7 linked regions of the Homo sapiens genome follow. The protein of the gene in region 7 purifies or fractionates together with the protein of the main gene of each other region. This does not show direct contact. Each region holds a gene or a part of one and is shown on either strand. Other genes may lie near its edges. The genes, in order: CNOT1, ASS1, CNOT9, EML4, BTG3, CNOT10 and PABPN1L.

What was found.
Region 1: the proteins of PABPN1L (region 7) and CNOT1 purify together in Homo sapiens (affinity purification with mass spectrometry; one large-scale study listed by BioGRID and IntAct). This does not show direct contact.
Region 2: the proteins of PABPN1L (region 7) and ASS1 purify together in Homo sapiens (affinity purification with mass spectrometry; one large-scale study listed by BioGRID and IntAct). This does not show direct contact.
Region 3: the proteins of PABPN1L (region 7) and CNOT9 purify together in Homo sapiens (affinity purification with mass spectrometry; one large-scale study listed by BioGRID and IntAct). This does not show direct contact.
Region 4: the proteins of PABPN1L (region 7) and EML4 purify together in Homo sapiens (affinity purification with mass spectrometry; one large-scale study listed by BioGRID and IntAct). This does not show direct contact.
Region 5: the proteins of PABPN1L (region 7) and BTG3 purify together in Homo sapiens (affinity purification with mass spectrometry; one large-scale study listed by BioGRID and IntAct). This does not show direct contact.
Region 6: the proteins of PABPN1L (region 7) and CNOT10 purify together in Homo sapiens (affinity purification with mass spectrometry; one large-scale study listed by BioGRID and IntAct). This does not show direct contact.

Annotation. Positions count from the first base shown.
Region 1 is NC_000016.10:58,619,827-58,623,326, reverse strand, and holds part of CNOT1 (CCR4-NOT transcription complex subunit 1), read left to right. Parts: intron 1-3,500.
Region 2 is NC_000009.12:130,475,961-130,479,460, forward strand, and holds part of ASS1 (argininosuccinate synthase), read left to right. Parts: intron 1-910; coding exon 911-1,001; intron 1,002-3,500. UniProt on the Homo sapiens protein: One of the enzymes of the urea cycle, the metabolic pathway transforming neurotoxic amonia produced by protein catabolism into inocuous urea in the liver of ureotelic animals.
Region 3 is NC_000002.12:218,589,339-218,592,838, forward strand, and holds part of CNOT9 (CCR4-NOT transcription complex subunit 9), read left to right. Parts: intron 1-2,965; coding exon 2,966-3,064; intron 3,065-3,277; coding exon 3,278-3,369; intron 3,370-3,500. UniProt on the Homo sapiens protein: Component of the CCR4-NOT complex which is one of the major cellular mRNA deadenylases and is linked to various cellular processes including bulk mRNA degradation, miRNA-mediated repression, translational repression during translational initiation and general transcription regulation.
Region 4 is NC_000002.12:42,172,353-42,175,852, forward strand, and holds part of EML4 (echinoderm microtubule-associated protein-like 4), read left to right. Parts: intron 1-3,500. UniProt on the Homo sapiens protein: Essential for the formation and stability of microtubules (MTs). Required for the organization of the mitotic spindle and for the proper attachment of kinetochores to MTs. Promotes the recruitment of NUDC to the mitotic spindle for mitotic progression.
Region 5 is NC_000021.9:17,593,153-17,595,901, reverse strand, and holds the end of BTG3 (protein BTG3), read left to right. Parts: intron 1-1,569; coding exon 1,570-1,809; 3' UTR 1,810-2,249; downstream 2,250-2,749. UniProt on the Homo sapiens protein: Overexpression impairs serum-induced cell cycle progression from the G0/G1 to S phase.
Region 6 is NC_000003.12:32,702,188-32,705,687, forward strand, and holds part of CNOT10 (CCR4-NOT transcription complex subunit 10), read left to right. Parts: intron 1-1,680; coding exon 1,681-1,775; intron 1,776-2,623; coding exon 2,624-2,785; intron 2,786-3,500. UniProt on the Homo sapiens protein: Component of the CCR4-NOT complex which is one of the major cellular mRNA deadenylases and is linked to various cellular processes including bulk mRNA degradation, miRNA-mediated repression, translational repression during translational initiation and general transcription regulation.
Region 7 is NC_000016.10:88,863,861-88,868,050, forward strand, and holds the start of PABPN1L (embryonic polyadenylate-binding protein 2), read right to left. Parts: upstream 2,801-4,190; 5' UTR 2,747-2,800; coding exon 2,492-2,746; intron 2,082-2,491; coding exon 1,946-2,081; intron 1,771-1,945; coding exon 1,703-1,770; intron 1,269-1,702; coding exon 1,162-1,268; intron 1,081-1,161; coding exon 993-1,080; intron 520-992; coding exon 377-519; intron 1-376. UniProt on the Homo sapiens protein: Binds the poly(A) tail of mRNA.

The sequences.
Region 1 (3,500 bases), about 30 Mb from region 7:
AGGATCTTAGAAGTTGTATGCCAGGAAATGGGATGAAGACCAAATGTATATCTCACAATAAATATTACAGTAATGTTGAAGTAATTATTTGAAATATAAAAGTGGGATGGAAGTATTTTCTTTTCTTTTTTTTTTTGGAGGCAGAGTCTCGCTGTATCCCCCAGGCTGGAGCGCGATATCGGCTCACTGCAACCTCTCCTTCCTGGGTTCAAGCGATTCTCCTGCCTCAGCCTCCTGAGTAGCTGGGATTACAGGCGCCTGCCACCACGCTTGGCTAATTTTTGTATTTTTAGTAGAGACGGGGTTTTGCCATATTGGTCAGGCTGGTCTCGAACTCCTGACCTCAGGTGATCTGCCTGCCTTGGCCTCCCTAAGTGCTGGGATTTCAGGCGTGAGCCACTGCACCCAGCCAAAAGGATTTTCAAAGACGCTATCTAACATTCTTTTTTCTTTTTCTTTCTTTCTTTTTTTTTTTTTTGGGTCAAGAGTTTCACTCTTGGCGCCTGGGTTAGAGTGCAGTGGTGCGATCTCAGCTCACTGCAACCTCTGCCTCCAGGTTTCAAGAGACGATCCTGCCTCAGCCTCCCGAGTAGGTGGGATTATAGGTGCCCACCACCACATCTGGCTAATTTTTGTATTTTTAGTAGAGACAGGGTTTCACCATGTTCGCCAGGCTGGTCTCAAACTCCTGACCTCAGGTGATCCACCCACCTCAGCCTCCCAAAGTGTTGGGATTATAGGCGTGAGCCTATAATATTCTTAAGCTTTATATTCAGAACTCAGCAGTTTCCGAGTCAGATAATTAAACGTTTGTTCCCTTAGATTTATAGCTTCTAGGTTTTGCGTTTTTTTCTTAATTGATTTTATTTTTTAGAGCAGTTTTGGGATCACAGTAAAATTGATGAGAAAGTACAGAGGTTTCCTGTATTATCTCCTGCCCCAATACATGCTTTGCCTTGCCCATTGTCCACGCCCGCCCCCCCCCCCCCCCCCACTAGAGTGGTACATTTTTTGAGATACAGTCTCGCTCTGTCACCCAGGCTGGAGTGCAGTGGCGCCATCTCGGCTCACTGCAAGCTGTGCTACCCGGGTTCACGCCATTCTCCTGCCTCAGCATCCCTAGTAACTGGGACTACAGGCGCCCACCACCACGCCTGGCTAATTTTTTATAGTTTTTTAGTAGAGACGGGGTTTCACCGTGTTAGCCAGGATGGTCTCGATCTCCTGACCTCGTGATCCACCCGCCTCGGCCTCCCAAAGTGCTGGGATTACAGGTGTGAGCCACCGAGCCCAGCCTGTACATTTCTTACAATTGATGAATCTACGCTGATAGATCATCATCATCCAAATTCTCTGGTTTACATTAGAATTCACTCTTGGTGGTGTATCTTCTTTTTTTTTTTTTTTTTTTTTTTTGAGACGGAGTCTCTTTCCGTCGCCCAGGCTGGAGTGCAGTGGTGCGATGTCGGCTCACTGCAAGCTCCGCCTCCCGGGTTCATGCCATTCTCCTGCCTCAGCCTCCTGAATAGCTGGGACTACAGGCACCCGGCTAATTTGTTTTTTGTATTTTTTGGTAGAGACGGGGTTTCACCGTGTTAGCCAGGATGGTCTCGATCTCCTGACCTCGTGATCTGCCCGCCTCGGCCTCCCAAAGTGCTGGGATTACAGGTGTGAGCCACCATGCCCGGCCATGGTGGTGTATATTCTGTGGATTTGGACAAACTATAAGGCCTGGTTTTGCTAACAAGAATAGTTGCCAGGCGTGGTGGCTCATGCCTGTAATCCTAGCACTTTGGGAGGCCGAGGCGGGCGGATCACCTGAGGTCGGGAGTTTGAGACCAGCTTGACCAACATGGAGAAACCCCGTATCCACTGAAAATACAAAATTAGTTGGGCGTGGTGGCGCGTGCCTGTAATCTCAGCTACTTGGGAGGCTGAGGCAGGAGAATCGCTGGACCCTGGGAGGTGGAGGTTGCGGTGAGCCGAGATTGCACCATTGCACTCCAGCCTAGGCAACAAGAGCAAAACTCTGTCTCAAAAAAGAAAAAGAAAGAATAGTTAGCTGGGCCAGCGCAGTGGCTCACGCCTGCAATCCTAACACTTTTGGGAGGCAGAGGTGTACAAATCACTTAAGCCGAGGAGTTTCAGACCACCCTGGGCAATATGATGAAACCCCATCTCTGCTAAAAATACAAAACTTGAGGTGGGAGGATCACCTGAGCCTGGGGAGGTCGAGGCTGCAGTGGGCTGTGATCATTGCACTCCAGCCTGGGTGACAGACTCTGTCTCAAAAAAAAGAAAAAAAAAAAGTTATCTTTTTGTCTAGTTTCAGGCTCTTGTCTTTTTTGAAATAACTTTCTAACTAATCTCCATTATAGTTTCTTTATCATTGGTTTTTGGGTTTATTTCACAAATAATATGTGGATATTGTGATTGTAAAAGATTCTAGGACTGCAGTTAATTTTTTATATTTCTGCCAAAATGCCACTTAAATCATTGCTTTGGAAATATCCTTTCTTTGTTCAGAAGTCATTCTAATACCTTCATCTGGAATTATAAGTGTTGATTCCTCCTTCCCTGTGGTACTACTGTGTTGTATTATAGTCAAAAGACTGTTAAGCAGTGGTACCCAAATATATCTTTGTCCTCTTTTTTTTTTTTTTTTTTTTTTTTAAATGAGACAGAGTCTTCGCTGTGTCACCCAGGCTGGAATGTAGTGTCGCGAGCTTGGCTCACTGCAATACAACCACCTCCTTCCGGGTTCAAGCGATTCTCCTGCCTTATCCCCGCCGAGTAGCTGGGATTACAGGTGCCTGCCACACCACGCCCGGCTAATTTTTGCATTTTTAGTAGAGATGGGGTTTCCTCATGTTGGCCAGGCTGGTCCTGAACCCCTGACCTCAGGTGATCTGCCCACCTCGGCCTCCCAAAGTGTTGGGATTACAGGTTTGAGCCACCGCACCCAGCCTCTTCGTCTTTTTACATCTGGAATGTCATCTCTACCAAAACTTTATCATTCTAGTCCAAACTCAGGTGTACTGTCTATAAATACCTAATTTCCTTAAGCAAAATTGATTTTTTGCCATCCTTGGCCAGTTTCACTTAAGTGCACCCTACAATGCCTTTTAAGTTTTCTGTCCCATAGTGAGTAAGGAGTCTCTTTCCCCAGTGCATATATACAGTTGAACTGTAATTGAATAGTGCTTCATTTATTACAGTTGGGTAAATTGATAGAATATAGCATTCTTGGAAATCGATACTCTGGTTTTTCTTTTTTTCATACTGCTTGAATGAGCAAGTAACATTTCAGAGGAAAAGATCTATCGGTGGTGGTTCATTATGTAGGTCAGGATTTTAGTTTCATTTGTGCATTGGATTTTAGAATATCATGACTATCTCTAGTAATCTACAGAGTTAAACTATTTACATCTTGGCAATTTCTTGAATTAATTAGGGAGATCTTTCTTTACCCCCAACCTTTTATTTGGATAGAGTTTTCT
Region 2 (3,500 bases), on a different chromosome or scaffold from region 7:
GTTGCCCAGGCTGGTGTCGAACTCCTGAGCTCAGGCAGTCCACCCACCTCAGCCTCCCAAAGTGCTAGGATTACAGGTGTGAGCCACTGTGCCCAGCCGTCTGCAAGGTTTTTAAAGCAAAGATGAGACAGCAGTTCCTGGATGTCAGCAGGTGAACAAGGACCCCAGGCACAGGATGCCCACAGGAGGGACCTGAGCAGTCAGGCCCAAGAGGCCCCAGTCCCCACAGTGGCAAATGTCCAAGCCACGGCCTGGGGGAGCTGGGGCCTCCGAAGGTGGGAGGGAATTTCGAGAGTTTCAGGCAACACGCAGCCCCTCCACCACTGCATCAGACGAGAGGCCCATTTTCCAACACGCCCAAGAAAAAATATACATAAAGGTTGATGTGTTTTCAAATGGGTTTTTGCTTTGCTCTTCTCTTTTCTCCCTGTGAGTATTAACCTTGGGGACCCTGGGGACGGCTCGGCTTGCCAGAGCACCTGCTGGGGTCACAGGCAGTCATTAGCTTTGCGGTCAGTGCAGAATAAACCCCAATCCCGAGCCGGCGAGAGCGTGCGTGCCGCTCCTGGGAAGCCCTCGGAACGCCGCCTTGCTCCTCCAAAGTCACACTTTTTCCTGCCTGACTTGTTCCTCTCCAGCTATTCTACCTCCAGCTGTGGGGGCGTCGAAGAAAAAGATGAGATCAAGTTGAGGGGAAAAATTGTCTGATTTCTCCAGCCCTTTGTTTCCCAGGCCTCTGGCAAGCGAGGCTGGTGCTAGGCTGAGGGCTGGGGACCGGGGGATCTGCCGGACCCCACCAGCTGGTGGGGAAATGGACAGAGGAGAGGGGTGCAGATCCCCGCGGGAGGTGGGCTGTAGGGTGTCCAGGGACTGGTATGTCATCTGCCCACCACTTTCTGTCTTTTTTCAGAACCAAGCGCCTCCAGGTCTCTACACGAAGACCCAGGACCCAGCCAAAGCCCCCAACACCCCTGACATTCTCGAGATCGAGTTCAAAAAAGGTATGTGCCCACCTGTTGGGACTCGAAGGGGGTTGACTTTTGGGGCCCTGGCTCCTTTCCCCTCCCTGCCTGGGAACCTAGGCCCTCTTTACCCCCGCCCTGCATTCCTGGAAGCTAGAGTTCAGGCAGGGGCTTCAAGGTAACGCACAGCCCACCTCCCTGGACAGTACAACCCATGGACCATGGATGCCTCTAGGCTTGGGAGGAACATGCCCTCGGCTACCCATCACTCGGGTTCATGGGCACCAGGTCTGGAATGAGAGCGCTCTAGTCCCTGAACAGCCACTCAACTTTCCTGGGCCTCAGTTTCCTCAGCTGTATCTGAGGATGAAAGAGTGCCTGCTGTTTTCCTGGGGTAGAATGAGGCCTGCAAGGGAGCGTCCAGCCCTGGGCCCTGACCCCGGAAGGTGCTCAGTAAACGGTGAGTGTTGGCGAGCTGGCCTCATGGACCCCTGGGACCCCACATGGAAAGCCTTCGCCAGTCTTCATTGAGCCGCTCTGGGCCTCACCCTGCTGACCCCACGTTCAAAGCTGCGGCCACTCTTGCTCCCCTCGGCAGTGGAGGCTGTCCTGATCGCTCCCTCCTTCTCACTGCTGTCAACAAGAAGCGTTTGCTGACCTGGCCTGAGTGCCTGGGTGCCTGAGCTTGGGAGAGGGCATCTCTTGGCCTGGAGGAAGGATGGAGAAGCGAGGCATGCCCGCCTGGGCTCAGAGGGAGGGCTCAGAGGGCGGGCTCAGAGGGCCTGAAGGGGTACCTTTTCAGGAGGCTGGAGTGATCAGGGAGGCTTCCTGGAGGAGGTGGTGCTGGGCACAGGGGCACCCAAGGACCAGGCGGGGGGCTGGCCCATTCGTCCACAAAGTGGCTGCCCACACTGGAGCTGGGATGAGAGGGAGAGAGGCTCGTGGAGAGGCCTGGCCCGGCTCTGGCGCTCGGCTCTTACCCCGGCTACCACAGAAAGGAGGATAGGGTGGGGAAGCCTCAGGCCGGTGGGGAGGCAGAGCTGCAGATCCCCCTCTCCCCCTTGCTGGTGTGACCTTGACAGCCAGCTTCACCATGCTGGGCCTTGGGTGCACTCATCAAAAAACGGACCACAGGCATGATGCTCACAGGTGCCCGGCATGGTATGTGGAATGGGGTGTCGGAGGCTAAGTGCTTTAATAATCTGCCTCTTCTGGGCCTTTCCCAAGAGCTTGGCCAAGCCAGCGACTGTCTTCCTTGCTCCCCTTCATCTGTCCCAACCTACTGGGGGGCCAAAGAGGACCCCAAAGGCAGCCGGGCCCCCAGGCCTGTTTGCAGGCACAGAGCCTCCCTTTAGGATCATCTCTGAGAAGATGGTGGGAGTGGCCCCAGCAGCACCTCCTGGCTCCCTGCACAGGGCTCCCAGGAGCCTGGAGAGCCGTGAGGGTGGGAGGCGGGTGGCAGGCTGCGGAGGGTCCTGGGCACCAGGCTCTGGCAGCCCTGCCCGAGGACCAGGGCAGCTCCGCAGGCTGAGCTGGAGAAGAAACGTGACCTATTGTCATGATTTGGGGACTGTCTGGAAGAAGAAAAAAAGACCGGAGGAACCCTCCCCTGGCTAGTGCCCATTCACTCTCTAGTTAATTTATTTGAAGTTTTAATCTAATTATTAACTATTTTAAAGGCTAAGAGGCTTTCTCCAGCAGCAGCACCAACAATGTCACCTCTTCTCCCGGGCAGGCCCCATCTAAGGCCCCAGCGAAGGCCGATAATAGGACCGGGGAGGGAGAGAAAGGGAGAGAGGAGAGGCGGGGGGTGGTGAGAGGGGCTTAAGGTTCATTATTGGGCAGACTTACATTTAATAGCAATTTACAACCAAGTTATAAAACCCCTGGAAATGGGGGTTAAGAATGGCGAGGCTGACAGCGCCTTGAGTGAAGCCCCTCCAAGCGGCGCCTGGCTAATAAAGCCTCGAAAGCCGCTATTGAGGCCTGATTGGCACCCGATGGCTCGCTCCATGGTAATGAGCCGGGCAGATGGGTGGGGGATTAGCCGCCAACTTTGAACAGCTTTTCTTTGTCACTGTTTCAGCTCTCTTGTTAGCCCCAATACATTTATTGCTCATTTCACACCGCTCGAGAAAGTGCCCCTTGCTATTCAAAGTCAACCCCGAACCCACCCACTGCCCCCACCCAACCCCTTCCCTCCTGCCACCCCGGACCCAGCTCCTCGGATTCAGGGACGCTGCCGACACCTCGCCTGCTGGAGCGGGCACCGTGTCACCCCCATCAATCAGATGGCTGCGTGTGGGTCTGGGGTACAGGGTCGGGGCGCGGGGTCCGCCTGACAGACGTGGCAGGGGGCTGTGTGTGTGTGTGTGTGTGTGTGAGCGAGTATGTGTGTGCTTGAGCCCAGCCACACCTCGGCCAGGCGGCCCCCGGGTGACTGGTGGGACAGAAGGTGCTCCCGGCGTAAGACAATGGTGGAGCGTGAAATTCAATTAGTTCAGGGCCTGGTTCCAATTTCACAGCCCCTAAATGCAA
Region 3 (3,500 bases), on a different chromosome or scaffold from region 7:
TTAAATTATTTATTTATTTAGAGACAGGATCTCTGTCTGTCACCCAGGCTGGAGTAGAGAGGCATGGCTCACTGCCGCCTCGACCTCCTAGGTTCAGTTGATCCTCCCACCTCAGCTTCACAAGTAGCTGGGACCACATGCCTGCTCCACCACACTCAGCTAATTATTTTTATTTTTTGTAAAGACAAGGTCTCCCTATGTTGCCTGGGCTACTCTTGAACTCCTGGGCTCAAAGGATCTTCCTGCCTTCTGCCGTAGTACTAGGAGTACAAGCATGAGCCACTGTGCCTGACCAATTTATTGTTTTTAAAGAGACAAGGTTTCACTATGTTGCCCAGGCTGGAATGCAGTGGCTATTCACAGCCATGATAATGGCACACTATAGCCTTGAACTCCGGGGCTCAAGCAGTCTTCCCACTTCCCTCTCTGGAGTAGGTAGCTTTGATACTGGCACACATCCCTATACCTGGCTATTTTTAAGCTTTTTATTTTAAATATTCAATATATGGATGACTGTCAAAGGCATTGTTGAGCAAAAGAAGCCAGACACATGGGAATTCATACTGTATGTTGATTATGTGAAGTTTAAGAACAAGCAAAGCCAATTACTGGCAATAAGTTGGATTCGTGGTTAGCTCTGAGGAAAGAACATTGACTGGGGAAAGGTACAAGGGAATGCTGGAATCCTGAGTTGGTAGAAATATTGCTTTTTTCTGTTTTTTTTTTTGTTGTTGTTGTTTTTTGTTTTTGAGACAGTCTCACTCTGTCACCCAGGCTGGAGTGAAGTGGAGTGATCTCGGCTCATTGCAACCTCTGCCTCCTGGGTTCAAGCAATTCTCATGCCTCAGCCTCCTGAGTAGTTGGAACTACAGGCACACACCATCATACCCAGCTAATTTTTTGTATTTTTAGTAGAGATGGAGTTTCGCCATGTAGCCCATGCTAGTCTTGAACTCCTAAGCTCAGGCAATCTGCCTGCCTCCACCTCCCAAATATTCTGTATTTTATACAATATTTTGTATTTTAATCTGGTTATAGTACATAATGTGTACATAGGTAAAAATTCAAGGTACACTTAAGATTAGTGCACTTAACACACTTCACTGTGTGTAAGTTTATATTAGGTTCCTATATAACCTGCTGCTATAACAAATTACCACAAGCTAGAAGGGTAGTGGCTTAAAACAATGGAAGTTTACTGTTTTATAGTTTTGGAAGTCACAAGTTCTAAATGAGTTTCACCAATCTAAAGTCAATGTATCAGGAGGGTCATGCTTTCTCTGGAGGATATAGAGGAGAGTCTTTTTGTTGCCTTTTCTAGCTTCTAGAACTGCATTTCTTGCATTCCCTGGATTATGGCCCCCTCCCTCTTCAGATCCAGCGATGTGGCATGTTCAAATCTCTTTCTGCTTGTCACATTGCTTTCTCCTTTGTGGTAAAATCTCTCCCTACATCTCTCTTGTTGTTGTTGTTGTTGTTGTTGTTTTGTTTGTTTGTTTGTTTTAAGAGATGGGGTTTTCTCTGTCGCCCAGGCTGGAGTGCAGTGGCATGATCATAACTCACTGCATCCTTGAACTCCTGGCCTCAAGCAGTCCTCCCACCTTGGCCTCCCAGAGTGCTGAGATTACCAGCATGGGTCACTTTGCCTGGCCTTCTCTACATCGCTTTTAAGGACACTTCGTTATTACATTTAAGGCCTACTTGGATAAACAGGGATAATCCCCCATCTCAAGATCCTTAACTTAATCACGTCTGCAAAGTCCCATTTTTCATTTAAGGTAACATTTGCAGAGTTTGGTGATTAGGGCCTGGATATCTTTGAGAGCCATTATTCAGCCTACTACAGTGTTATAACCCCAATAAAATAGTAAAATAATTCCACAGTTCATTTTGATGAGCAGCCAAGAAAGAGTATCATTATCGTGATTGTCTAATTTAAATTAAACTAATATTTTAATATCTCTTTTATGTAAGAGCTAATGAGCTCAAGTTGAGGGAAAAATTGAGGCCACATATAAGCTTCACAGCCAGGATATGTTTTATTACTGTTAGATAATCTTCAAAGAGAAGCGTGAAAATCTTATTTCTTCAAGATCTTTTAAGAACAAAAAAGGCCTTATCTCAGCCGAGTGCAGTGGCTCACGCTTGTAATCCCAGCACTTTGGTAGGCCAAGGCAGGTGGATCACGAGGTCAGGGAATTCAAGCCCAGCCTAGCCAAGACGGTGAAACCCCGTCTCTACTAAAAATACCAAAATTAGCCAGGCATGGTGGCAGGAGCCTGTAATCCTAGCTACTCGGGAGGCTGAGGCAGGAGAATCAGTTGAACCAGGGTGGCAGAGGTTGCAGTGAGCTGAAATGGAGCCACTGCACTCCAGTCTGGGCGACAGAGTGAGACTCCATCTAAAAAAAAAAAAAGAAAAGAAAAAAGAAAGAAAGGCCTTACTTCATCTGGAAGAGAGGAGGCATAGCTGAATAAATCATCTTGGCCTATGGAAAAGAGAAGAGCCTTAGATATTCAAATGAGGCTTGGATCTCAGCTGTGCCATAGTAACTTTGTCACTTGGGACCTTAACCTGGTGCATTATTGATTAACAGTTATACCGGGCACATAGTAGGTACTCTGTAAATGAGAAGGTCTCTGAGTTTTTAAGAATTTGATAATTACACGGAACCTACCCTTGTATGTAAAGTGAGAATAATAATGGTACCTACCTCATTGATTTATTATAAAAATAAGATAAGCATGTAAAGCCTCTAGAAAAAAAAACTGGTACAAAGTAATGTTCAACATGGTAATATTTATTATTCTTTGTACTATACATATATGATAAAGTTGTACATAATATACAAGGATCCCTGCTTGCTCAATTTTCTGACTGATAGTCATGCCTGGGAAAATGAGTAGAAAATGAGAAGATTAAATCTGAGCAACTTTATAAACTCTTCGATTTTGTTTTGCTTCAGGTTGCCACATTCATCCTCCAGAAGATCTTGTTAGATGACACTGGTTTGGCTTATATATGTCAGACGTATGAGCGTTTCTCCCATGTTGCCATGATCTTGGTGAGTTCTTTCATCTATCCCCTTTACAACTACTTCTCATCACAAAGCTTAATCTCTTTATAACTGGCATTGAACAACTTCAGTCCTCTGACTAGAACTAACAATTTTGGAACCTTTTATGATTCTTGGACTATCTGATCTCTGATGTCAATTAGAATTTGTTTGTGTTTTGTGTGTTTTTTCCAACCCCTCCCCTTATTTTGGGGGAAACAGGGTAAGATGGTCCTGCAGCTATCCAAAGAGCCTTCTGCCCGTCTGCTGAAGCATGTAGTGAGATGTTACCTTCGACTTTCAGATAACCCCAGGTAAACATTTATAGGATGTATAGGACTTTAGGGAAATACTCTGCTGAACAGTTTCCTAATCTCATGGCATAGCTCCTGTGTCTTTAGGACAGGGAAGTGGGGATATAACTGCATTTAGTTTGTCTGAGACA
Region 4 (3,500 bases), on a different chromosome or scaffold from region 7:
CTGTGTTATGTGCATTTTATAAGATGTCTAATGGCAATTAAGACTAGGTAGTGGTTTTTTAAATCATAGGAATGATAAGTGATTGGCCATTTTATAAATGCCACATTGAAGTTACATGGTACTGATTATGTTATCTTTGTTTTACATAAAAAACAAGTGAAGAATTCTTTTAATCTCCGCAGCTGATGAATTTCAGGCAACTTGGCTGGCAGGTGCTTGTACTCTGGAATTTCCCTTAGGTATTATTAATATATCTTTTAATCCACAAATTATGGTAACTTAAGGCAGCACTTTAGAAACCTTTTTTTTTTTAAACTTAGGAGAGAAAAGTACTCAATTACCTTGATGTGTTGCCTCTAAATCACTACATATAGATACCCATGTGCAAAATGTATATACTGTATGTATATTAAATCTCAGGTCTATGTGCAAAAGTGGGAAGCTATTCATACAGCTTTTACCGATTTTTTATAAGGCAGGGATTGGGTGCATTTCATGCTTAATCTTTTTAGAATCTCTTTCATAATAGAGGTTTAATTTTAAGACTTTTATCTTGGAATTAACCTAGAGATTAGTCTGTTTTCACTTGAAAGAAACCTTATACCTAACCAGTCAGCTTTAAATTTTTCTGCCTCAAAAGTTAAACAACAAAACTTAAAATCTTCTTCCCCCTAAGAAAAATCATAGTGAATGAAATTGTTGGATTAGGATCTATAAGAAACAACATTCTGGGTACAGGTTGTAAATGTGAACAAGTATAGCAGTATGCTTCAACTTATGGACTATTCAGAAATTAGTCTTTTTAACATCACATTGTTAGAACTGTGATTTCTCATCACAGATAATAGTCTTGCTTTCTTAAAGGAACAATGCTGTATATGATTTTCACATATTAATCTAAAGCATTCCTTATTTACATGAAAATGTTTTTCATGTAATATTTGGAGAGGTTTTTTTTTTAAACTTTTTTTATTGGTTGCCTCTTGAAGAGTTCAAGATAGACTCAAGTTGTGTAACCAGACATGAGTAGTAACTCTTAAATGGTTAGTAGAGCATCTTCAACATGAGTTAGCTAGAGTGTTTTTCAACATATGTATGGATTAACATCGAACATGGGCTAGCACTATGCTTGGTGGTTCTTATGGGAAAGACAAGTAAAAGACATGCTTTTTGCCCTTTAGGAGCTTACTGCCTGGTTTTTAAATAAGTACCATGACTAGGTGCAGTGGCTCACGCCTGTAGTCCCAGCACTTTGGGAGGCTGAGGTGGAAGGATCGATTGAGCCCAGTAGTTTGAGACCAGCCTGGGCAACATAGCAAGACCCTGTCTCTGCAAAAAAAACAAAAATAGGCATAGTGGCATGTGCCTGTAACCCCAGCTACTTGGGAGGCTGAGGCAGGAGGATCACTTGAGCACAGGAGTTGAAGGTTGCAGTGAGCTATGATTGTACCACTGCACTCCACTGGGCCACAGAGCAAACCTCTGCCTCTAAAAAATAAATAAATAAATAAAGTATGTACTGTATGTAGAGATGTTTATTATTAAGCCTAAGTACCAGAAATGGGGATGAAGGGAGGAAGCACCATTTAGAATGCTGTGCTATGTTTCAAGCAAGTAACTTCTGAGAGAACATTTGTTGATTGCTAGATTTATCTCTGCAGAGCTTGGCTTTTTAAAACAATGAAATAATTTAGCAGTTTAAATTCTAGGGAGTCTTTTTCTGTCTTATGTGTAAGTTGGAATAACATGTAGCAAAATACTGTATTTTGTATGTGGGAGTCCATTTCTGTAACATGTAAAACTTCAATATTCATAAGAAATTTTAGAAAAATATTTTGATTTTTAAAATAGATTCTAATACTTGTAAAAAGTTTAGGGAAAGAATCTACTTCATCTAGTATTACCTCAGTGTGGAAGATTCCCAAATCTATAGTATATTTCTTTGTGTGTGTGTGTCTGACGGAGTCTTGCTCTGTCTCCCAGGCTGGAGTACAATGGCACGATCTCAGCTCACTGCAACCTCTGCCTCCTGGGTTCAAGCGATTCTCCTGCCTCAGCCTCCTGAGTAGCTGGGATTACAGTTGTGTACCACCACACCTGGCTAATTTTTGTATTTTTAGTAGAGACAGGTTTTCACTATGTTGGCCAGGCTGGTCTCAAACCCCTGACCTCGGGTGATGGCCACGCACCTTGGCCTCCCAAAGTTCTGGGATTACAGGTGTGAGCCACTGTGCCTGACCCTGTAGTATATTTGTATGTCGGTATATGATCTCTTGTCCTTTAGCTGTCTTAGGCTTTTATAATACCTTAATTTTGCATGCTGTATATGATTTTTAAATATTATTTTAAAGCATTCCTTATTTACAGTTTACAAAGAGCTTTTATCTCATTTAATTTGCATACTAACCTTGGGAGATAAATTATTATACTTTTATAGGTGAAAAAGGTCTAGAAAGTGGTTTTTTTTTGTTTGTTTGTTTTTTGAGACAGAGTCTTGCTCTGTTGCCCAGGCTGGAGTGCAATGGCGCGATCTCGGCTCACTGCAGCCTCCGCCTCCCGGGTTTAGGCAGTTATCTGCCTCAGCCTCCCTAGTAGCTGGGATTACAGGTGCCCGCCAGCATGTCTGGCTAATTTTTGTATTTTTAGTAGAGACGGGGTTTCACCATCTTGGCCAGGCTGGTCTTGAACTCCTGACCTTGTGTGATCCACCCACCTTGGCCTCCCTTACAGGTGTGAGCCACCGTGCCTGGCCGTGTTTTTGTTTGTTTGTTTGTTTTTGAGACGGAGTCTTGCTCTATTGCCCAGGCTGGAGTGCAGTGGCACCATGTTGGCTCACTGCAGCCTCTGCCTCCCGTGTTCAAGCTATTCTCCTGCCTCAAGCCTCCCGAGTAGCTGGGACTACAGGCACTCACCACCACACCTGGCTAATTTTTTGTATTTTTAGTAGAGATGGGGTTTCACTGTGTTAGCCAGGATGGTTGTGATCGCCTGACCTTGTTATTCGCCTGCCTCGGCCTTCCAAAGTGCTGGCATTACAGACGTGAGCCACCGCACCTGGCCAAGAGTGTGTTATTTTTTTAAAAGGTTAAGTCCAGGTTTTTTCTTTTTTTGTATGGTTGGGAGTGTTTGTATCTATATTATTTTTATTTTATTTTATTTTGTTTTTTTGAGACAGAGTTTCTGTCGCCCAGGCTGGAGTACAGTGGCACAGTCTTGGCTCACTGCAACTTCTGCCTCCTGGATTCAAGCGATTCTTGTGCCTCAGCCTCCCGAGTAGCTGAGATGACAGGTGTGCACCACCGCACCCAGCTAATTTTTGTATTTTTAATAGAGAAGAGGTTTTGCCATATTGGCCAAGCTGGTCTTGAACTGCTGTCCTCAAGTGATCCATCCACCTCAGCCTCCCAAAGTGCTGGGATTAGAGGTGTGAGTCACCATGCCCAGCATCATATTATTTTTAAATAAAACACCATAGAAAGGAAAGAAGAATAGAAAAATAA
Region 5 (2,749 bases), on a different chromosome or scaffold from region 7:
CTTGCTAGTCATGTAAAATAGTACCACTACTTTGGAAAACTGGAACTTTTTAACGTTAAATGTGTAACTCTTCTATTACTCAGCAGTTCCACTCCTAAGTATTAAATATTTACCAAAAGAAACGAAAATATGCCTATAAAGCCTTCTATTAGAATTAACTGTGCTGTTATTCATTGCAGCATTGTTTTGTTCGTTGTGTATCATTGTTTTTTTAATAGTAAGAGACTGAAAACAGCCTCAATGTCCCATTACTAGGAGACCATTTAATTTATAGTCATTGCTATACTATCTAGCTGTAGAAAAATGAGAAGGATCTTTATGTATTGATATGTTTCTGAAATGTATTATTATGAAATGTAAAAAGCAGGATACAATCCAGTATACATATATATTTTTAAAGTGTGTATAGATGTGGATAGAATATCTCTAAAGGTATATTTAAAAAAATGTTTGGTGTCAGTTGCCCTTGAGAAGGGTTAAGATAAAGAAGATAAAGGGTGAGATAAAAAAAGAGGGACTTTCCACAGTTTACCCTTTTGTACTTTTTGAATTTTCTATCATGAATGCAATGCTATACACAATATAATTTTTTTAAAAAAATCCTATACTTAGAAATGCAGATTTGAGATCAGCAAAATCAGAAATTTAAGAAGATGTGGCATTCTAAGCAGAGAGGTCTAAAACTGCTGATAAGAACACTTTGAATAATGTGAACCTGACGTGCCCACCTGATTTATGGGATAATCTAAAACTATTATTCCCAAATACTAAACTGGCTACATCAGAATCACCTGGGGAGCTTTGTCAAAATACCTGGCCTCTAGTTCTGAGATTTTATTATTGTTCATTAGACCAGTGCTAGGGCATGAATGTTTTGTGTTTATCTTTTTTTTTTTTTAACTTTTATTTTAGGTTTAGGGATACACATGAAGGTTTGTTCCATAGGTAAACATGTGTCACAGGGATTTGTTGTACATATTATTTCATCACCCAGGTGTGAAGCCCAGTACTCAATAGTTATCTTTTCTGCTCCTTTTCCTTCTCCCACCCTCCCCTCTCAAATAGACTCCAATGTCTATTGTTTCCTTCTTTGTGTTCATAAGTTCTTATCATTACCTCCCACTTATAAGTGAGAACATGCGGTAGTTGATTTTCTGTTTCTGCATTAGTTTGCTAAGGATAATGGCCTCCAGCTCCAATGTTTTGTATTTAAAAGCCTCCAAGTGACTCCTGGCTTAGCCAGCTGTGGAAACCACTGGACTAAAACAAGCATGTCCTTACAAGCTTCCATTCGTTCCATGTTTTGGTCTTTTTTGGTTGAAGTTGTTTAGGAAGTACTGTGTTTGAGTTTATTCATTTCTTTATGCATTCAGAAAACATTGGTCACCTGTTATACATTATACGCCTATTACACATGAGGTTTTTAATGTATTTAGACCTGACAATAGGAGTGTCACTTAGATGTGATCTCAGTGTTGTGGGTAACTTTGTTTGTCTTTAATGAGAAATCTGGAACATAGATGATGATTTTTTCCTTTGAATTAACTTAATGTGTTCTCTTCCCTACAGATTTCAGAACTTATATTTCCACCTCTTCCAATGTGGCACCCTTTGCCCAGAAAAAAGCCAGGAATGTATCGAGGGAATGGCCATCAGAATCACTATCCTCCTCCTGTTCCATTTGGTTATCCAAATCAGGGAAGAAAAAATAAACCATATCGCCCAATTCCAGTGACATGGGTACCTCCTCCTGGAATGCATTGTGACCGGAATCACTGGATTAATCCTCACATGTTAGCACCTCACTAACTTCGTTTTTGATTGTGTTGGTGTCATGTTGAGAAAAAGGTAGAATAAACCTTACTACACATTAAAAGTTAAAAGTTCTTACTAATAGTAGTGAAGTTAGATGGGCCAAACCATCAAACTTATTTTTATAGAAGTTATTGAGAATAATCTTTCTTAAAAAATATATGCACTTTAGATATTGATATAGTTTGAGAAATTTTATTAAAGTTAGTCAAGTGCCTAAGTTTTTAATATTGGACTTGAGTATTTATATATTGTGCATCAACTCTGTTGGATACGAGAACACTGTAGAAGTGGACGATTTGTTCTAGCACCTTTGAGAATTTACTTTATGGAGCGTATGTAAGTTATTTATATACAAGGAAATCTATTTTATGTCGTTGTTTAAGAGAATTGTGTGAAATCATGTAGTTGCAAATAAAAAATAGTTTGAGGCATGACAACGCGTGTTTCTGTTGTGTGCATAAAAGGGGAAAAGAACGGGTATTTCCCTTCAATGTATTTAACTAAATAGCAAAAACATTAAACAGAACGTAAGAATTTTAAAATTTCCTTTGAAAAATCAACTATTAACCATACTTTTCCTAAAAGACCACATATCAGAATATGCATATGAAAAGTTAAAAATTTGTTAGTGGTAGTTATTGAAAATATAATAAAACATCTTTTAACTATCAGTGTCACTATACATAGGGTTTTTTAACAAAGAATTTGGCTCGTACTAATTTTGACATGACATCTGACTTACATGTCTAATGCCATTGCATAAAGTAGATGTGTTCTTACAGCTGCTCTAATCTCTGTGCCTTGTGCTTTTTTTAAAAAACATTTAAGTCTTTACTAGAGGCCTAAAATAAAGTCAAATAATACAATACTTCAGATTCTTCAGTAGTCCATATTTATACAACTGTAATTCCATCAGTCTTGTAAGGGTACTTGA
Region 6 (3,500 bases), on a different chromosome or scaffold from region 7:
CAGGTTCAAGCAATTCTCGTGCCTCAGCCTCCCAAGTAGCTGGGATTATAGGCATGAGCCATCACGCCCAGCCAACAGTGACTCTTGAGAGAACTATAAAAAGTATTGAAGCATTTGTTAGAGTACTTAACACACTTTTGCTCTGAGTAGTTTAGGTTTGGTTCAGCTGAGATTTTTACCTTTATTTTGGAATTCTATTTTCAAATTAAAACAAAAAGCAAAACATCTAATATTTAAAATAGCAAATTATAGAGGTAGGAGGTAGTTTTCCCAGCTAAACAGATTATTAACCTTTACTGTGAATTTATATGGACACTTAACATATTAAAGAAACTTTTTAAATGTGTTAATATTTTGGATTTCTGAGCCTATGAAAATATTCCTTGCCTGGAAATTAGCTGTAAGCCCTTATCAGTGTAGTTTTCTGATTGTTACTACTTTCCAACTAAATTATAAATCTCTTAAAGCCATCGTAGGTGTGTTTATATCTCCAGCACCTGCCATAGTTGCTTGAATATGTGGGACTGTATATTGCTGGGTGGCAGATCTAATATTTTTTAAAGAGCACAATATTCTCAGCTTGAATGTCCTCATCTACAGGGCTTGTGGTCTTTATTTAAGTGGGCAGGTTTTCATTGTGTTTCAACTTGGCCATAGGAACCTTTTCAAGCTTTCAGAGGAGTAGCTTCTTATTAGCTTATAACATTAATCAGTCATTGTTTTTTGTTGTTTTTTTTTTTTTGAGACGGAGTCCTACTCTGTCGCCCCGGCTGGAGTGCAGTGGCATTATCTTGGCTCACTGCAAGCTCCACCTCCCAGGTTCACGCCATTCTCCCGCCTCAGTCTCCCAAGTAGCTGGGACTACAGGCGCCCGCCACCACGCCAAGCTAATTTTTTTTTTTTTTTTTTTGTATTTTTAGTAGTGACGGGGTTTCACCGTGTTAGCCAGGATGGTCTCGATCTCCTGACCTTGTGATGTGCCCGCCTTGGCCTCCCAAAGTGCTGGGATTACAGGCGTGAGCCACCGTGCCTGGCAACATTAATCAGTTATTGTTGAGAGAGCCCTAACTTTGGCCACTTTATTAGGAAGAACACAAGATGAAAACTAGGGACAAATTCACTATACAGTAGTCCCCCACCTTTTCCTCAGAAGATACATTCAGGGTCCTCCGGTGGATACTTGAAACCACAGATAGTACTGAACCTATGTACTGCTTTTTTTAATACGTACATAACTATGATAAAGTTTATAAATGAGGCACAGTAAGAGATTAACAACAACAGTAATAAAATAACAGTTATCTGAATGTGGTTTCTCTTTCTCAAAATATCTTACTGTACCCTACTCACCTTTCTTCCTGTGACCTATTGATCTGATAACCAAGATGGCTACTGTGTGTCCAAGGGGGAGGTATCTTATACAACATGGAATGCTAGACAAAGGAATGATTGACTTCCTGGATGGGACAGAGCGGGACACTGCAGGATGGCAAGAGATTTCATCATGTTACTCAGAACATTGCTGTTTAAAACTTAAGAACTGCTTATTTCTGGAATTTTCCATCTGATATTTTCATACTTGACCTTGGGTAACTGAAACTGCAGAAAGTGAAACTGGATAAGGAGGGACCACTGTACAACTTTTATTTCTAAAGAACTGTAAAATTTGTGTGTTTGCAGATCAGGGAGCAGAGAAACATGAAGGCACAGGTCAGTCCTCTGGGATCACTGATCAAGAGAAGGAGTTATCCACCAATGCTTTCCAAGCTTTCACAGTAAGAAATGGCTTCTCTTAGTCTGCTCAAGTTGTAGGGTTCTGTCAAGTATGAATCTTTTCATAGTGAATTTTTAAATTTACAATTTTTACTCTGTAATAATTCAAAAGTTAATTTAGAGATAAGTAGGTTTAATTTTTAAAATAAATGTTTTAGAGTTTAAATATGGTGAAAGGAATGGGAATAATTGGAGCCATTCCCAAGTTTTTGTAAACATGTTTTAACTCATATACTGTTGTTTTTAAGTCTTTTAAATTTAGATTTGTAAGTATGTGGGTCAGTCTTTTCATTTCACTAAGCTGTTCAATTCTTTTATTTATTTATTTCTGAAAATATCAGATTCAAAAATTATTTTCTTGAAGGTACTTTAAAATGGAACCCCAAAACTTTATTGGCAGAATTTTAACTTTTTCTGGCATTAAACAATATGAAAGAAAACCTTATTTGGTTATCAGGTTACGTGCATGTAAGCAGAAGAACTTGATGCTTGGGTATTTAAAATATATTTACTAGAAAATAAAATTTGGAGTGATTATATTACCTTTCTTGACTAGCCTCAGCCATTAATACCCTGCTAGCACTATATGTATATGCCAGTATATTTATCATATCAATATATGTGTCTTATATGTGTCAATGTCAGGGTTTTGAGTCTTAGGAAGTAAATATCCACAGTTTAACTGACATGAATGTTGCTTTAGTGACTTTGATTAGTATATGTAGGGAAACTACATCTTTCTTTTTAAGAACTTTTAAGATAAAGATGAATGAAATATATTTGGAATGATATACTGTATTTAAAGCTGGTATGTAATTTTGTGTGTGTGTGTGTGGTTTTTTTTTTTTAGTCTGGAAATTATGATGCCTGTCTACAACACCTTGCCTGTCTACAAGATATAAACAAAGATGATTATAAAATAATTTTGAATACAGCAGTAGCTGAGTTTTTTAAAAGTAACCAAACAACAACAGATAATTTGAGACAAACACTTAACCAGCTGAAGAATCAGGTGATACATAAATGAATTTAACTATAAAAAATATTGTTCTGTTCTTTAATTTATGAAACACAAATAGTTAAGGAAAATAAATGTGATTTGTCTGGTATTTCTTGTCAGAAACATTTGTTAGCATTAATTTTATTTCCGTAAAATTATTATTCCAGGAGATAAAAGGTATGTTGTGGGATCATTTTTTTTAATTGGGGTTTTAATGAACTTGAACAGAATAGACTAATATACCAAATTTGAATGAGCTTTGGAGTTTTGAGAAAGAACTATATGAAGAAGCTTAGCTGTGGAGATATATCTTGTTTATAATGAAAAAAATATGATTAATCCTAATGTCAAGTCGTTTTAGCATTTGGATCAGGAGATGATTGATTAAATAGAAGATATTCTGCTTTGTATCTGGCTTGGGGCTTGAATTGGGGATTGGTCTGGTGATAATGGCAATGTTTCTTGAATCCTGGGGCTAGACTTTTGGTGTTCAAGAGGGCTGATAACAGTGATGGTGCTGATAGGATCAGCTAGCATATGTTAAGTGTTCACTGTGTGACAGGGCTCTGCCAAGCGCTTGTATGCAACTTCTCAGCTTGTTCTTCTCAGTAGCCCTATGAAATAGCTATATAATTTTTCTTATTTTAAAAGTGGAAAAGCCAAGGCACAGATAGCTGTGTAAATTGTCCAAAAACACAAAGTTTTTGAGTAGTAAGAGCTACATGAA
Region 7 (4,190 bases):
CGGGGGACAACAGGATAAGGATGCAGGGAGGTCACCTGGCTGCTCAGGCAATGCCCCAGGGGCCTTTCTGGTGACTCCCAGCTGCTCTCTTGGGAGGGTCCCACGAAAAGGAAAGGCAGTGCCAGGAGAGCCCCTTGGGGCAGCTGTAGCCCACCCTGGGGCCTTTGTGGGAACAAGAAGGGGTCACCTCTCCCAGCAGAGAGGCTACAAAAAGCGCCCCCCCCACCAGCTGATGCAGCAGCCACAGCCCTCACCCAGGCCCCGCCAGGTACATTCCTGCAGCCCCATGAGGAACGAGCTCAGGGACCCCCTCCTGCCCCTGATGCCCTCCACCATGGCCCTCGCCCCCAGGCTGCCCCCACAGGCACCCACTCACCGGTTCTGCCCTTGTGGTCTGAGCCGGGGCCTGCCCTGGAGGCCGCTGTGGGGGAAGGGTGCCCCCCTGGAGCCTGGGTGTCCTCGAAGGCCCCCGCGGTCTGTGGAGCTGATCCCAGGGAAGTTGGTTCTTTTCGGCAGCACCTGGAGCAAAGGCCTGTTTTGAGTCCTCCTCAAGGAGCAGCCGAGACCCAGCTCACAGCCCCCGCAGCCCCCACCACCCCGGAGCATGGGGTCCTGCCCGGCTCAGGATACCATTCGGGCCTACAGGGTTCCCTGCCTTTGCCTACCATAGCTGTCATATGACACCCCGTCACGGCCAGCACCCCTGCAGAGGGGGGGGTCACGGCCAGCACCCCTGCAGAGGGGGGGGTCACGGCCAGCACCCCTGCAGAGGGGGCTCCCGCCCGAGAGGGGACACTTCCCCACCATGCCACTGGCAGACCAAACCCAGCTTCAGGTCCGAGGGTCCCGCCACATCCTGTCCAGGCCCAGCCAAGCACCGTGCCTGAGACACGCTGTGCAGAGAGGAGCCAGCTGGGGCTGCTGTGTGTCCCAGGGCCAGTGGGCCAGCCCCTCTGCGCTCATGTTCCTGGACCTGGGGAGCACCGGCGCACCTTGATGACCCGGCCCCGGAAGAGGCTCTGGTCCAGCTCCACGGCGGCCTGCACGGAGCCCTTGGTGGCAAACTCTATGTAGGCATAACTGAGGGGAGGGGCAGGGAGGGGAGGGGTGAGGCTGGGCCCTGTCCGCATGGCCAGTGCCCCCACCAGGCCCCACACTGACCCCTTGGGGTGTCCAGAGAACTTGTCACACAGGATCGTGACTCGGTGGACCTCCCCACAGCGGCTGAAGTGGGCCTCCAGCTCCTCGGCGGAGCCCCCGTAGTCCACCTGCACCCAGGCCCAGACCAGCATGTGAGGGAGACGCCTGGCCCTGACTCGGGGCCTTCTTGTTAGAGGTGAGGAAAGAAACCCCAAGGCTGGGCCCCGTGGCGGGGATGGCCCCAGGCCTCCACCCCACACCCCCGCTGGGGTTGGAGGGAAGAGAGGAAAGGATATCTCGTATGGAGCGCTTCCTTCTGGAGAGCTGGAGCCTTTTAAAAAGCTTCTCAAAAGTGGAGATTTCATGTGCAACCCCGAATTCCAGCTCATGTTGAAAAACTGGAATATGTGCCCAGGCCAGTGTTTCCTCAAGGTGACGGGGCTGCCCCCAGGGTCAGACCCCCTTCCCAGCAAGGCTGCCTGGCCCATGGCCGGGCGCCAGACCCTCTGGTAGAGATGGGGCCCCATTCGCTGCCTGCCCCTTCACCCCGCCCACCACTCACGTTGCCCACGTAGACGGATCTGTGGTCAGCCTCCACCTTCTCCTCGGGGGTCCCAGAGAGGGGGCAGCCTGCGGAGAACACAGCTCAGGCCCGCAGGCCCTTGGTTCCTTCCTCACTCCTCTCACGGGGAAGGTCGCCCAGGCTTATAGGGGAGGTGACACCTTGGAGCCTGCCAGGCCCAACCTTAATGGAAACTGTGGGACCCTTGCTCAGTGGGGGGCGGCCTGTGCCCTTGGTTCCTACCCACGGTCTCAGGGCTCAGCAGCTGCCCGGCCGCGGTGCCCTCCTCTTCCTCGGCCTGTTGCTGCACTCCTGGAGGCCGTGGCGTCCCCTCGGCCTGCTCCATGGCACACACCTTCATCTTGATGGCCTCCAGCTCCTGCCGACACACGGCCCTGAGCCGGGCAGGCAGCCTGCAGGCTCTGCTCAAGGAAGGTGGGTGTGTGGCCTGCCAGCTCCAGCAGAGGGTCACAGCCCCAAGGGGCAGCCCTTCTCTGGACAGGGACACTCCTTCCTGGGGCAGCTGGCTGGGGATGAACTCGCCCCTGCAGAGAAGCCCCCGAAACCGCACCTCAAGGGCCCTTCCCCAGGCGAGAGAGGCCACCTTGACCCTGCAGTCTGTGTGGCTGGGGGCGGGGGGTCTCCTTGCCACCTTCGTCCAGGCAGGTGGGCAATGGCCCTCTCCCCTCCTAAGTCAGCTGCAGCCATCCGTCACCCAGACCCCGTGTCTCCACCAGCCCCTGTGCCCCAGGTCCCCTGAGATCCCCAGGGCCTCCACACAGCTGTTACCTGGTCAGGCAATGGGCACTCAGCCAGGTTCTCTTGCTCCAGCAGAGACAGCAGAAAGCCTGCATCCCCATCCTGGTCTTCCTCTGCATCCTCTTCCTCCTCTTTCTCCTCCTTCCCTTCCCCACCCTCTGGCCCCAGAATCTCCTTGGTCTCGTTCCAGGCCCCCCAGCCCTGGGCCTCAGGGTCTGAGGAGACCGTCTGGAGCCAGGCCTGAGTCGGGGGTGGGAAGAGAGAGCGGCTCGGGAAGGGCCACATGGTAGAGGGGCAGGAGGAAGGTGGGCCAGGCGAGGCCTCCCCTCCACTCCCCTCGCGTCCGCACCTGCCCAGGCTCTCCTGGAGTTTTAAGCCCTCCCCTGAGGCCAGCTGCTCCCACTAGAGCATTTGCAAAGGCTGAGTGGGGCTGAGCTTCCAGCCTTGGCTCCCGGCCCCGCCCCTTCCCTGTCACTCGGACAGGTACCTCCAGGACACTCTCCCTGGAGGAAGGAGAGGCTGAGTTGAGTGGGGGTCACCGGTCTCTTCTGCTTCCGCCTGGCCACGCTGTGGCTCACTGGAGCCTTGGTCTGTGACAGGGTTCACACCTCAGCAGCATCCACACGGCACGAACGCCACACTGCATGAACACTCGATCTAAGTGGGAACACGGGAGTGGTTTCTTCTAGTACCAGGGACCAAGCAGGCTGGAGAGGTGGCTTCCGACCAGGAGAGGCAGGGCCTGAGCAGAGACCGAGAGCAGGTGCATGGGATGAGAGGGCCGAGGCAGGTTGGGGCGGGGTCCTGGGCCCAGAGGAGGGGCAGCAACAGCTGTCTCTGCATCCTGACCCCCATGGAGTCCCCAGGGACCCTTGCCTCCCTAACCCTTATTCTGGGCCTTTTTTTTTTTTTTCTTTTTTTTTTAGGCAGGAGTCTTGCTTTGTTGCCAAGTCTGGAGTGCGGTGGCGCGATCTCGGCTCACGGCAACCTTTGCCTCCCAGGTTCGGGTGATTCTCCTGCCTCAGCCTCCTGAGTAGCTGGGATTACAGGCACCTGCCACCATGCCCAGCTAATTTTTTTTGTCTTTTTAGTAGAGACAGGGTTTCACCATGTTGCCCAGGCTGGTCTCGAACTCCTGACCTCAGGTGATCCGCCCGACTCGGCCTCCCGAAGTGCTGGGATTACAGGCGTGAGCACCGCACCTGGTCTGGGTCATCTTTTAGGTGGGAGCCACTTCCATGAGGCCAGAATTATTCTGCTGTGGGGCGGGGGCTCCGTGGGGAGTGACGGCGTGAGTTATTGTGGGGCGGGGTCTCCGTGGGGAGTGACGGCGTGAGTTACTGTGGCGGAATTCAGTGGGCATCCGGTGGTGTCTGCACCTGGCTTCACCCATGCAGGGTTGCAGCAGGAGGTGACCCGTGTCCGCCCTTGCGCCTCCCTCTGCACCTGCCACCGCGGCTGCTGGAGTCTGCTCTGGCCTTCATCTCCAGTGCTGCCGTCTCCCACCCACTCTGTGAAGGACTCGGGGCCAGGGGGTCATGCATGGCTCTTACCCCTGCCATTGGTGGTGGGAGACGGGGCCCCCTGCACAGCTCCTACCCCCAGGCCGAGGCCATCCTCTCTGTGACTGCACCCCGGTGTTTAGCCAGTGGGGCTGGGATTCCTGGGAATTTGGGACTGGGGGAGGAGAGAGAGACAGGGCGTGGCCTAGGCTGGAGCTGCACTGCTG